Regions from separate parts of the Homo sapiens genome. Here all the other regions are reported to be linked to region 2. The links are microRNA targets in miRTarBase. Many come from high-throughput screens and were not tested one by one. Region 2 holds a microRNA gene; each other region holds the end of a gene's coding sequence. Distances are between the middles of the regions.
Evidence for each region. Region 2 holds the annotated microRNA hsa-miR-3135b (GGCUGGAGCGAGUGCAGUGGUG, at 1,655-1,676, opposite strand). A microRNA usually pairs through its seed, bases 2 to 8, with sites in the 3' UTR of a target mRNA and lowers its output. Matches are read on the target gene's strand: a 7mer-m8 pairs with bases 2 to 8, a 7mer-A1 pairs with bases 2 to 7 and ends in A, and an 8mer does both.

Region 1: miRTarBase lists SLC16A10 as a target of hsa-miR-3135b. The part of its 3' UTR that is shown has no 7-base or 8-base seed match.
Region 3: miRTarBase lists PTCD3 as a target of hsa-miR-3135b. Seed matches in the 3' UTR shown: 7mer-m8 at 2,241-2,247.
Region 4: miRTarBase lists SAMD4B as a target of hsa-miR-3135b. Seed matches in the 3' UTR shown: 7mer-m8 at 1,908-1,914 and 7mer-m8 at 729-735.

Annotation. Positions count from the first base shown.
Region 1 is chr6:111,221,866-111,225,062 of GRCh38, reverse strand. It overlaps SLC16A10 (solute carrier family 16 member 10), which reads right to left. Exons shown (of 6, transcript NM_018593.5): 6 at 1-3,060. The coding sequence ends at 2,828. Among named protein-coding and RNA genes, the nearest start is that of SLC60A2-DT, 36 kb to the left of the region's middle.
Region 2 is chr6:32,748,298-32,751,494 of GRCh38, forward strand. It overlaps MIR3135B (microRNA 3135b), which reads right to left and starts at 1,682; the gene lies at 1,615-1,682.
Region 3 is chr2:86,137,221-86,140,220 of GRCh38, forward strand. It overlaps PTCD3 (pentatricopeptide repeat domain 3), which reads left to right. Exons shown (of 24, transcript NM_017952.6): 24 at 249-3,000. The coding sequence ends at 339. Among named protein-coding and RNA genes, the nearest start is that of SNORD94, 2.9 kb to the left of the region's middle.
Region 4 is chr19:39,383,042-39,386,238 of GRCh38, reverse strand. It overlaps SAMD4B (sterile alpha motif domain containing 4B), which reads right to left. Exons shown (of 14, transcript NM_001384574.2): 13 at 2,948-3,031; 14 at 539-2,740. The coding sequence ends at 2,712. It overlaps PAF1 (PAF1 component of Paf1/RNA polymerase II complex), which reads left to right. Exons shown (of 14, transcript NM_019088.4): 14 at 1-610. The coding sequence ends at 248. Among named protein-coding and RNA genes, the nearest start is that of PAF1, 6.5 kb to the left of the region's middle.

The DNA.
Region 1 (3,197 bases), 78 Mb from region 2:
GTTTCTTGGCCATCTGTTACAATAGTATCCAATCTAGAGTATCTATAAAAAGGAATGTTACTCCCTTTCATGCTTTTTTTGGCCTCAAATGCCAGAACCTTTCGAATTTGAGAATTTTCTGAGTCTTATCAAAAACAGGATGAGGAGATAAAAACAGAGTTCTGACTCTGTATTCTTTTCAGACTCTCAGAAAAGTGTCTGGATTGAACACAAAAAATTTAGGCTTATCAGGTCACTTTATTGCAGCAGTAACACTTCATTCAGAAATTAGAAAGGATTTAGTTTGACTAGATTAAAGCACAAATTTTTATATTAGTATTTTTCATTTTCTTTGTGCATTTTAAACTTTTAGAACTTTTCCCACAAAAAACATAGTACTAAATATGCATTTATGGAATTTAGCATCTTACGTTTATACTTTTTCTTCTTAATTTTATATTATTATAGCAGAGTATTCTCCGTATGAGTCTATTACAATAGAACTTTTTCAGTGTTATAGATCCAGTTTGATTCATTCCATTAAACTGAAAACTACATATGTGAAGTTTAATATACAAACACATATGCTGAGATCTAAGTTATATATACTTGTCACTGCTGTTTTAATATGGAAACTAACCAAGCAATTTCTTTTAGTTTCAGATGATCACTTTTTTCCTAAAATCAGCCAAATTTTGAAAAGAAAAACACTGTAGAGGTCTTTACAGAGTAAAGTTTTCATTTTTAAATTACTTTCTGTAAAATTGGGGAGAAGGTGTTTTGAGGGGAGTCTGTGCTAAAACTTAAAACAAAATTTAACATTTATTTTTTGTTTTTGATTTTCTTTTACAGACAGGGTTCTGCTCAGTTGAACAGGCTAGAGTACAGTGGCATAGCTCACTGCAGCCTCCATCTCAAGGCTCAAGCAATCCTTCCACTACCTCAGCCTCTGAGTAGCTGGGGCTACAGGTGGGCACCATCATGCCTGGCTAATTTTTAAATTTTTTGTAGACACAGGGTCTCATTATGTTACCCAAGCTGGTCTTGAACTTCTGGGCTCAAGTGATCCCCCTGCCTTGGACTACCAAAGTGCTAGGATTACAGGCATGAGCCACTATGCTTGGCCTAATTTTTTTTTTTATTTTTAGTAGAGACAGGATCTTGCTATGTTGCCCAGGCTGGTCTCAAACTCCTGGGCTCAAGCAATCTTCCCTCCTCAGCCTCCCAAAGTGCTGGGATTATAGGCGCAAGCCACCTTACCCAGCCAAAATTAACATTTATAATAGTGGGTTTGATGATTGGTCTTAGTAGTATGTTTTGTTGAACTTCTCAAAAATGAGAAAGTAACGTTTTATATAACTGGACATGACTGAATGAAATCATTTTCTAAAAGCTTATAATAAGGACATGAAAGGGTAGTATGGTCAAAATGTAGATTTTTTTTCCTGCAAAAGAACCATCCACAGGCAAATTATCTAAGTCCCCTGAATATGAAATATGACACTATTAGAAGTGGTAAGGTGCAACTGCATGTATGACAAAGTAAGTTGCTGAATGTCTTCACAATCAAAAGCACTAACTTTTAAAGGCCTCAAGTACTAAAGCATAATTTTAGGGATAGAGGAAAGTGTTCTTGTTTTTGTAAATGAGTATGGGTCATGGCATGACTTTGGTTTTATTTTGGGTCCTCAAACTGAGAGCTTTCTTATGATAATCTGTATATAAATAGCAAAAAAAAACAATGGGAATGTTCATAGGATAAATAATATGAGTGCAAATTTTTGCCAGAAAGTTCTGGAAATGTAGGACTTGGTTCTTTTTATAAGTGCTTTTAACCTTTTCAGACTCATTAATTTCATAAACCAATTTAAGCAATTATTTCTATCAGCTACAGATATTTTCTTCACAAATATAAAGGGTTTTGCTCCCCTCCCCATCCTCCAGCCTCCACCAATTTGTGCCTGTAACTGCCACTTGATAGCTGCTCAGTAAGACTTTAAATATCAGGTTCTAGTGCCAACAAATCCAGAAGTCAGAAAAATTCTAAGTTACAATCGCCAGAATATCTTTCATGCATTCTATTTTACTTTATTGTTACAGTTTAAACAAATTCAGAAACGTGGGGTGTTTCTGGCTACTTGAGTAAAACGCACTGCAAACGCAAAGGGAACAACGCTGTAAACTTAAATGATTTCTGAACAGCTCAGGATCCTCCTGGAGGGGATCCTTTTCATCTCACATATTGATTCTGAACACTATGTTAGCACCTGCTCCCAGAAGGTCCCTTGACACTGGAGCAAGTCAGAATATCTTAATATCATAGCTTATTTAACAGCAGGAAAGCAACTTTAACATAGACTTGAGGTTTAGGTAGATCTGGTATTATCTAGAACCCAGGCTTAAATTTTGCAAAAAGTTTCCAAAGAGCATAAGAAAGTAAAACAGAGGTACCAGAACTGAAGACATCATTAACAAACAAAATATTTCCACTCCTAACCAAACTGCAACCCTTTCAGTATAGCCTGAGGTATTTTTAAACATTTGTACAAGCTAAAGATCATTCACAGTTTCCAAAGCTGCTTTTTACTGAGATAGCTTCAAATTTTCACAATATGTGACTTTCAGACGTTTTCATATACCAGAGTCTCTGCCCTCAGACTCATGGAAACATCAGAGATATTTAGTGGCAGAAAATGGTTCTTCTAGTGATAAGGGTTCTATTTCCCAATTATTGTGCTATTCCTAGGATGTGATTAAAAAAATATGAAATTTGCAATTTGTATAAAAGGAAAGGAAACTTGCTTAAAATTCAAAAAGCAAGTCCAGTCTGGTGGAGGTATGTAAGATATTAAATAATAGAGTCAGATTCTTTCTTGAACATTCCAGATGAACTTGACAGCAGAGAGTTCTGGTTTTCCAACATTTTCTCCATCTTTTCTTTTCCAGTGGTTTTACTGATCTCTCTTTGCTTCTTACTATGGATCCACGGGATAAAACAAAGCACAGCACCTCCAATAAGGGGAGGGACTCCAGCGAGGTAGAATGCCACATCATAGGAGCCCAGTTTGTCACGAAGTAACCCTGAGAAGGGAAAAAGCTGTCACCAAGGGAGAACAAGTGTGGCTCTGTAGGGGGTCTAGATCAGCCACAGGACTGATTCAGACATCTCAGACATCAGACTTTTTTTTTTTTTTAGGAAACAGATCTGAAATATAAAC
Region 2 (3,197 bases):
TTTCTCATCCACAATGTGGGAGTGATAATATTTTCCTTGCAGAGTTATTGACAGAATTTGAATAATCTTGGTATATAGACAGTGCCTTACACGTAGTATATAAATATATAAGAAAACACTGCAGTTATGTTTATAATGGATTTATTAAAAAGAATGGATCATATTATATGAAAAGTACATTTGTTTTCCTTAGCCCTTTAGTGATTTAGGAGATTCAAGCGTAGACGTAAAAGTGAGTTTCTTTTCATATGTTAACTGGAGGATTTTTTTCTTTCTTGAGAGGCTGAGATTGGGTTGCTAAGAGAACTCTTAGGACAAGAAGTTGTAATATTTGACTTCGGTTTTTAACTCTCTAAGGGGTATATTCCCTCCTTATGTCCCATAAATTTTAAGTCAAGGTGAATTATATGCAACAGCAGTTTATCCATATTTACTTTGGGGAGGAGGTGGGGAGACTCCGGGAGAAAATAATTATAAATGCAGACTGGGAATTAGTAAGTGCAGGGAATCTGAACCAGTGGTGATCATGAAAACGTCCATCACAGAACACAGAGGATTTTTAGGGCAATGAAACTACTCTATTTGATACCACAATGGTGAATAAATATCATTATGCGCTTGCCCAAATCCATAGAATGTACAACACCAAGAATGAACCTTAATATAAACTATGGACTTTGGGTGATAATGATGTGTCAGTGTAAGTTCATAAGTTGTAGCAAATGTACCTCTGTCATGAAGGATGTTACTAGTGGGGGAGGCTATGCATGTGTGGGAACAGAGAGCATATGGGATACATCTATCTGTACTCTACAATTTTTCTGGGAACCTAAAACTTCTCTAAAATAAACTCTATTAAAAAAAAAGAAAAGAAAAGGTCAACAATAATGATCCCAAATATATAAAATTAAAACTGTAGTATAAAAATGGTCACATGAAAATGCATGAATGTGCTAAGAACTTTTCTGCAATAGGATTTAAAATAAATTTTATATAAATTTCAATGATTCATGAGCCAAGAACCCAGCATTCTGGAGGTGTGTGCATTTGTGTGTGTGTGTGTGTGTGTGTGTGTGTGTGTGTGTGTGTAAGGCTTACATTGAATGGCATTATAACCAGAGTCATACAGAAATACACAAATGCTCCCCTATTTAGAATCCTTCCCCAAGAAATACTGAGGAAAGCAAATATAATGGTAGTTGGATTTTACTGAAAGAATGTATTCAAAAAGTATTTATATAATGTTAAAATAGCATAGCTAAAATTAGTTTTATAAAATAGAGCAAATATATCTTTTTATCAGCTAAAAGTTCAAAGTGAAATCATCATTATTATATTATTATATTATTATTATAAACAGTTATAAATCAGGCTGCATGATTTTAAATTAAATGATTCTTAAAAATTGTTATCTGAATTATTTCAGATTACATACATAAAGTATGACTTCATTAATAGGTAATATCACATTGTTTAAATTTTACAAAATTTCCAGTCACAATGGTTCATGCCTGTAATCTCAGCACAAGGTGAGGGTCCCTTAAAGCCCAGGAGATGGAGACCAGTCTGTAGTCCCAGCTAGTAGGGAGGCTGAGGCAGGAGGATTGCTGCTTGAGCCCAGGAGTTCGAGGCTGCAGTGAGCTAGGACTGACTGCACCACTGCACTCGCTCCAGCCTGGGCAACACAGCGAGACCCCGTCTCTAAAAATAAATAAATAAATGAATAAATAAATAAAAATTACAAAACGTAAAAATCACGTAAAATATTTCAGGTTTGTACTTACCACATACAAACTAGAGATATGAAGAATTAAACATTACAAATAAAGCACTTCACACACAGTCTGGCCCATAGTAAGCAGTTTATAGAAGTTAACAAATTTGTGTTATTGTTATTTTCTGGAGTCCAAGACAAAATCCCATGATGAATGACACCACAAGGATGTAAGCAACAAAATTCAGAATATGAGAAGTTCTACTAGATTAAATAAAAAGATTTCTCCAGCAAACAATTTGCAAAAAAAGTTAAAAATAGAGAAAAGAAAAGCTATACACTTGAAAAAGACTGAAGAAATATAGTAACCAAACGCTGAGCTTTGTCTAGATTCATATTCAAACAAAACATCTGTTAAAAAATTTATATGAGGCAATCAGAAAAATTGACACTGAGTGTATTAAGGAATTATTTATCTCGTTTTAAATGTGTTAGTGGCATTGCTGTTATGTTTCTAAAAAGCCATTATATTTTAGATTTTCATAATAAAAATGTATAAATGAAATATGATACCTAAAAATATCTTCAAAATAATCCAGTATGTGCCTGTATGATAACTGGGTGGGTTTACAAAATTGCTCATGAATTGATTATTGTTAAAGCAAGGCTGTTGATACATGGAATTCTTCTCTGTACTATTGCACACAGTTGAAATTTTCTGTAATACAAAGGTTTTTTTTTTAAATGTATTCAGGAAAGTCCCATAAACATAGGCAGACAAGCATTCTGTTTGAAGTTATGTTAGTTTTTCAGTTTTTCTCATTTTTATCACATTTAGGAAACCCTGTCCAAGGCCTGCCCAAGACTGTAAGAACCTCTCAGGAATGCAACTATAAAGAATGTGTATGCAGGAACTAATAATAACAAAGGAAAGCAAAGTAATGCTTGCTTTATTATTGGCTGGACTAAGCCCCCAGACTTGTTTATATATTCACTAATTCATCAAAAATGCAAAAATGGTCATTGAGTACCAGTGCTACAATAAGTACTCATAGTTTGTTGAATGTTATTAAAATAATGTGAAAACAATTACATTCATTATCTTCATAGAACTTACACTCCAGTGGGAGGAAAATACATATATTACATAATTCCACAAACATAGTTACAAGGTCTGAAACATTTATAAAGAAAAAGAATGAGGTAAAATGAGAGAGTGTTGCACAGGGACCAGGTATGGTTTGGGGCAGTTTAGAAGTGGCTTGAAGAAATGTATCTTGAGATGAAATAAGGTGGTATACAGTAGGTAAAGGACAAGGTTGAAGAGGCCAGAGCAAATGTTTGAGAAACTCTTACAATATGAAAGAGAAGATGAGAATAAAATAACATGAAAATTATCACAGATTTAATAGAGAAAGTTCATGTAACAGCAAACAAGTTTAAAGTCATTCTAATTAGAATTCTTGATCTGTAAAAGTAATAA
Region 3 (3,000 bases), not on the chromosome of region 2:
ATCCCTTCTATTTCCTTTCAAAAAGTCAGAATGTAGTAATTTAATGACTATTTCATTTGTCATGCAAGTCAGGAAAGCCTATAGATTTGACTGTTAGAAGCTTTTTGTTTCTAATATAGTTTAATGCAACTGCAGGGTCCCTTTTTCTGATTTCAAAACTGACAGGCTATAGGTGAGTGTCAGAGACACCGAGAACCCCAGCACCCAGTTGAATTGCAGTGTAATCCTCCATTTTCTTTTCTTAACAGGGAAGCCCTAAGTAATCTAACTGCATTGACCAGTGACAGTGATACTGACAGCAGCAGTGACAGCGACAGTGACACCAGTGAAGGCAAATGAAAGTGGAGATTCAGGAGCAGCAATGGGTCTCACCATAGCTGCTGGAATCACACCTGAGAACTGAGATATACCAATATTTAACATTGTTACAAAGAAGAAAAGATACAGATTTGGTGAATTTGTTACTGTGAGGTACAGTCAGTACACAGCTGACTTATGTAGATTTAAGCTGCTAATATGCTACTTAACCATCTATTAATGCACCATTAAAGGCTTAGCATTTAAGTAGCAACATTGCGGTTTTCAGACACATGGTGAGGTCCATGGCTCTTGTCATCAGGATAAGCCTGCACACCTAGAGTGTCGGTGAGCTGACCTCACGATGCTGTCCTCGTGCGATTGCCCTCTCCTGCTGCTGGACTTCTGCCTTTGTTGGCCTGATGTGCTGCTGTGATGCTGGTCCTTCATCTTAGGTGTTCATGCAGTTCTAACACAGTTGGGGTTGGGTCAATAGTTTCCCAATTTCAGGATATTTCGATGTCAGAAATAACGCATCTTAGGAATGACTAAACAAGATAATGGCAGTTTAGGCTGCACAACTGGTAAAATGACTGTAGATAAATGTTGTAATTAGTGTACACGTTTGTATTTTTGTTAATATAGCCGCTGCCATAGTTTTCTAACTTGAACAGCCATGAATGTTTCATGTCTCCCTTTTTTTTTGTCTATAGCTGTTACCTATTTTAGTGGTTGAAATGAGAGCTAGTGATGACAGAAGGATGTGGAATGTCTTCTTGACATCATTGTGTATTGCTGGTAATCAAGTTGGTAACGACTACTTCTAGCAGCTCTTACCACTATGACTTAAGTGGTCCTGGAAGGCAGTAAGTGGAGGTTTGCAGCATTCCTGCCTTCATGAGGGCTTCTACCACTGACCACTTTGCACGTACCTGGCTCCCAGATTTACTTAGGTACCCCACGAGTTGTCCACATAAGCAGCTTCATCTTTACCTTGCCAGAGTTGACAATTATGGGATACTCTAGTCTACTTATACTTGTGTTCCCATCTGTCTGCCATCCTCTGAAGGCCGGGACCCAGTCATACATCCTTAGAAACCAAAGTATGGTTTTTGTTTTCTCTTGGAATGTCAGGTCTTAAGGCATTTAATTGAGGGACAAAAAAAAAAAAAGCCGATATAGTAGCTAGCTACTTAAGCATCCATGGGTATTGCTCCATATCAAAGCAGATTTGCAGGACAGAGAGAGTAAATTAGCCTTCAGTCTTGGTTTACAGCTTCCAAGGAGAGCCTTGGCCACCTGAAATGTTAACTCGGTCCCTTCCTGTCTCTAGTTCATCAGCACCTGCAGATGCCTGACTCTTGTTAGCCTTACTATTCAATACAGTCCTTAGATTCACGGTATGCCTCTTCCTATCCAGGCACCTATTCTGAATCACCATGTTGCTCTGCAGCTAGAGTTGATAGGAGAAAATCCATTTGGGTAGATGGCCTATGAATTTGTAGTAGACTTTCAAAATGAGTGATTTGTTAGCTTGGTACTTTTAAGTTTGTGGTACAGATCCTCCAAACCCATACTCTGAGCAATTAACTGCCTTGAACATAGAGAAAAATTAAGGCCTCACAGGATGAGTCTCCATTCTCTGTAAATGCTTATTTTATCATAGTCTTTAGCCTCTACTATGAGTAAAATGTTCTCTTCGGCCGGGTGTGGTGACTCACACCTGTAACCTCAGCACTTTGGGAGGCAGAGGTGGGAGGATCACTTAGGTCCAGGAGTTCGAGACTAGCCTGGGCAACATAGTGAGACACCGGATCTACAAAAAAATAAAAAGCCAGACTGGTGGTATGTATCTGTGTCCCAGCTAATTGGGAGGGTGAGTTGGGAGGATTGTTTGAGCCTAGGAGAGGGAGGTTGCAGTGAGCCGTGATTGCACCACTGCACTCCAGCCTGGGCAACAGAGCAAGACCCTGTCTTGGAGAAACCAGAATTTTGGAAGAGCAAATGGGGCTGAGTGCAGTGGCTCATGCCTGTAATCCCAGCACTTAGGGTGCCAATGTGGATTACCTGAGCCCAGGAGTTTGAGACCAGCCTGGGTAACAGTGAGACCCCCCTCCCTACAAAAGATTTTAATAATTAGTTGGGCGTAGTGGTGCATGCCTGTAATCCCAGCTACTCTGGAGACAGGTGGAGGGGATTGCTTGAGCCTGGGAAGCTGAGGCTGCAGTAGCCATGACTGCACCACTGCATTCCAGCCTGGTTGACAGAGTGACCCTTGTCTCCAAGAAAAAAAAAAAGCAAATGGGATTAAGGACTCATGGAATGGGAAGGGGAAGGGGAGTCTTACTATATGTGGAATAAACTTGCTCAGTGTTGCCACAGAGTTACATTACCAATGTGTAGAAGTCAGAAACTAGACTTCTAGTTTGGTTCAACATTTGAGGGTTGTTTTATAGCCATCAAAGTATTCAAGAGGTTGGATGGCACTCAAAAGATTCTACATGTCTAGAATCAAACTCAAATCTGGCACGTAGGTGCTTCTTAGTAAATGCTTAATGAATGCCACCAACTCTGCAAAGTATTCATTGATTTTGAGACCTTAGTCATGTTGCTACTAAAAGTAGGGCATATGACCGCCTAAGAAACAGAACTTCGAGAAGTCCTAACGTAACCACAGTAAAGCAGACTCCCCTTTCAGCAACC
Region 4 (3,197 bases), not on the chromosome of region 2:
AAGAGGAGATCTTTGGCAGTGATGCTGATTCTGAGGACGATGCCGACTCTGATGATGAGGACAGAGGACAGGCCCAAGGTGGCAGTGACAATGATTCAGACAGCGGCAGCAATGGGGGTGGCCAGCGGAGCCGGAGCCACAGCCGCAGCGCCAGTCCCTTCCCCAGTGGCAGCGAGCACTCGGCCCAGGAGGATGGCAGTGAAGCTGCAGCTTCTGATTCCAGTGAAGCTGATAGTGACAGTGACTGAGTCCCAGGGCATTCAGGGCTGGTTCAGACACCATTATTGTGAGCAGCAAAGCACTTTTCTAGTGGTCTGTTTGTGAGCCTTTCACTTGTTTGTTCCCCACCCCCAAACCTTTGCTGTTAATAAAGTCAACTTCTCTTTACTTCCCCTCCCAGCCCCTATGATGTCATTCAGCCCAGCACATACCTCCCGCAACCCCCAGGTGCTCAAGGATCTTGGCTTGAGGCTTAGAAACACAGGCCAGAGGCAGGGCCAATGGTTTCCCACAAAATGTAGCACAACGAAGGTCAGAATTCGTTTTTTTTGTTTGTTTTTTTTTTTTCCAAAATAAGCCCAGACCATTAAACAAGTGAAACTCCAACAAATAAGTCTTCTCCAACAGCGAGAAAAACTGTACAGTTACTCAAAGCTGATTCTGCCAGTGGGGCCGGGGACAGAAGTGGGTAGGGAGGGTGAAATCATGGAGGAGGGCCTGGGGAGGGGGCTGGAGCGGGAGAGGGTCAGGGTCCTGCCCATCAGAGTGGGGCCGCCTGCGTCCTGCACACTCTGCTGTCAGGTGGGGTGGGGGGCAGCTCTTGCCTCCCTGTGTGTGTGAGACGGTGTCCCTCACCACCTCCCAGTGCCAGGCACAGTCAGCTCACCCTGATGGAGAGTGAACAAGACAGGACAGGCTGGGGAGAGGGGAGGGTCCCATGAGAGGGACACCCTGCTGATTCCAAACGAGGTGGCCCATCCATCCCACTTCCTGCAGCTAGTGGGAGGGGGACTGGAGAAGCCCTGGGAGATTGAGGGGATGAGCAAAGGCACAGAAACATGGAGGGCCGGGGTGGGGGACTTGCATAGGTTGATGAGTGTGCAAGAGGTACATAAATAAACCTGACACCCCACCCAGCCCGGCACTGGGAGAGGAAGTGGGGACCCAGAGCCAGGTTCCCAGGGCCACCCTACCCCCTGGCTTCTTCCCCCTCCCTGGGCTCAGAGCAGAGGGAAGTCCACAGACCAGGAGGGCGGGGGCAAGAAGGTCTGGGGAATGGGGTGATAGTGCAGGGAGGGTGGTGGTTTTAAAATTTTTTTTTTTTTTGTTTTTTTTGTTTTTTTCCCAACATTTTGTATCTTTAATAACATACACAATGGTTACCAGCCATATTCATAACAAAAGTTATTCATAAAATGTATCTAAAAATAACATTTTTTTTCCTTTTCGGTGTGAAAAGCTTGAGAATGTCCCAGTTGGGAAGGTGGGTTGAGGGGGAGGAGGGCGTTGAAGAGGGAGACCCTGGCTTCCCCGCAGTCTGAACCCCCAAATCCCCTCCCTCCACCTGGGCCCCAACACAACCCCTCATTAGGAATAGGGACCAGACAGTCTGTCGGACTCTGGGGCTGGGACGAATCTCTGGGTTATGATATAGTGTTCCACTTAAGTGAGGTCATGACATAATGGGGGAAGGAAAAAGGCTGAAAGAAAAGGGAGGGGCTTAGGGAAAAACCCAAAAACCAAACAATCCCCTTTCCCTTATTCCTGACTCCCAAGTCTCACCAACCAGACCTGGGAGCGGAGAAGGGTGTGTGTTCGTGGGGAAGGGGACGTTAAGGCAACAGACTTCCTGACCTCACTGGCTACCCTGGCTGCCCACCTCCAACCTCTTCATCCGGGTAGCCAGGGCTGGAGGAAAATGGGTTAGAGCTTGAGGGTCTGGAGGAGGGGGCTCTGCCCTCTCCCCTCATAAAGTTCAGGCTCTCCCTGCCACTGTCTTGGCTGAGAGAGACCTGGGGATTCTAAAAATGAGAGGAAATGATCAGAGAAAAACCGTTAAGAACTATATAAATATGTATCTTAAATAGGCCTAAGAAATTAATCATAGAGAACCTCTGGTGAACAGGGCCAGGGGAGGTGAGAGAGAGGAAGGTGGCTCCTGTCCTTGCAGAATGTGGGGAATGGTGAAGGGGAAGCAGGGAGAGGAGAGAGAGCTTCCTCTCCTTGCTCCCCTTCCTTCTCCCCAGCTCCTCTCAATAACATTCTGGAGGGCAGGTTCTCTGCCCTGCGCGTCACCCCAAATGTCAAATGTTTCTGAGCAGGCTCCACAAGGTAGTGGTCAGTTTGTCTCTGGGGAGTCTGCTCCCTTGGGGAGAGGCAGGTGGTCAGCGGTCTGGAGGAGGCAGGGGTGGGATGGGACCAGGTGGGGATGAGGAAGGAAAGGAGAGAGGCAGGCAGTCTGGCCAGTCCCTGCCCCCTTTATCCTGGCTGCCCCCAACTCCCCGGGCCTCAGCAGAGATCCCTCGACGGGCCTGGGAGTGAGCAAGGCATGTGCCAATGTTAAACAAAAGTTAAGAGGGTAAGAGAGTAGAAAAATATTAGAATATATAGCTGAGCCAGCCCACCCTCTCGCTGTCGCGGAGAAGCCCGTTGGGGGTTGGCCCCCGCCCGCCGCCCAGGGAGCCTATGGGTGCGCTGGGCTGTGGGTCCCGTCAGATGGTGGAGGTTTTGTCTGTCCCATCTGTGGTAAGAAAGGGAGGAAGGGAGGAAGATCAGGAGCTGGAGGGAGGCCCAAGAAAAGGCACTCAGGTAGCCTGTCATCCCAGTCAGGCCCTCCCTGGAGTCTGGCCTCCCCTGGGGACCCCTCAGGATGACTCTGAGTTGCTCAGTTCAGAGGCAGAGACGCTGGGTAGGTGGGAGCTGGGTCAGGGAAAGAGGAAATGCTCACCACCCAAGGCGTGTTCTGTCATGCTCAGACACAGAGACTCCAGAGTGGGATTGATCTCCAGGTCAGGCCCAGGAACCGGGCAGTCTGGGTGGGAGAGAGGAGAATGGGGGTGGTAAGGACCAACTGGACTCAGGTGAAGACAGCTGGGATGACAAAGGATGCTGGTATGGGAAGGGAGCAAGAGAGATGGAGGGGGAGAGGGAAGAACGGGAGGAGGTGGACAGGGAGAGAGGCGAGCGTGTCACACAAC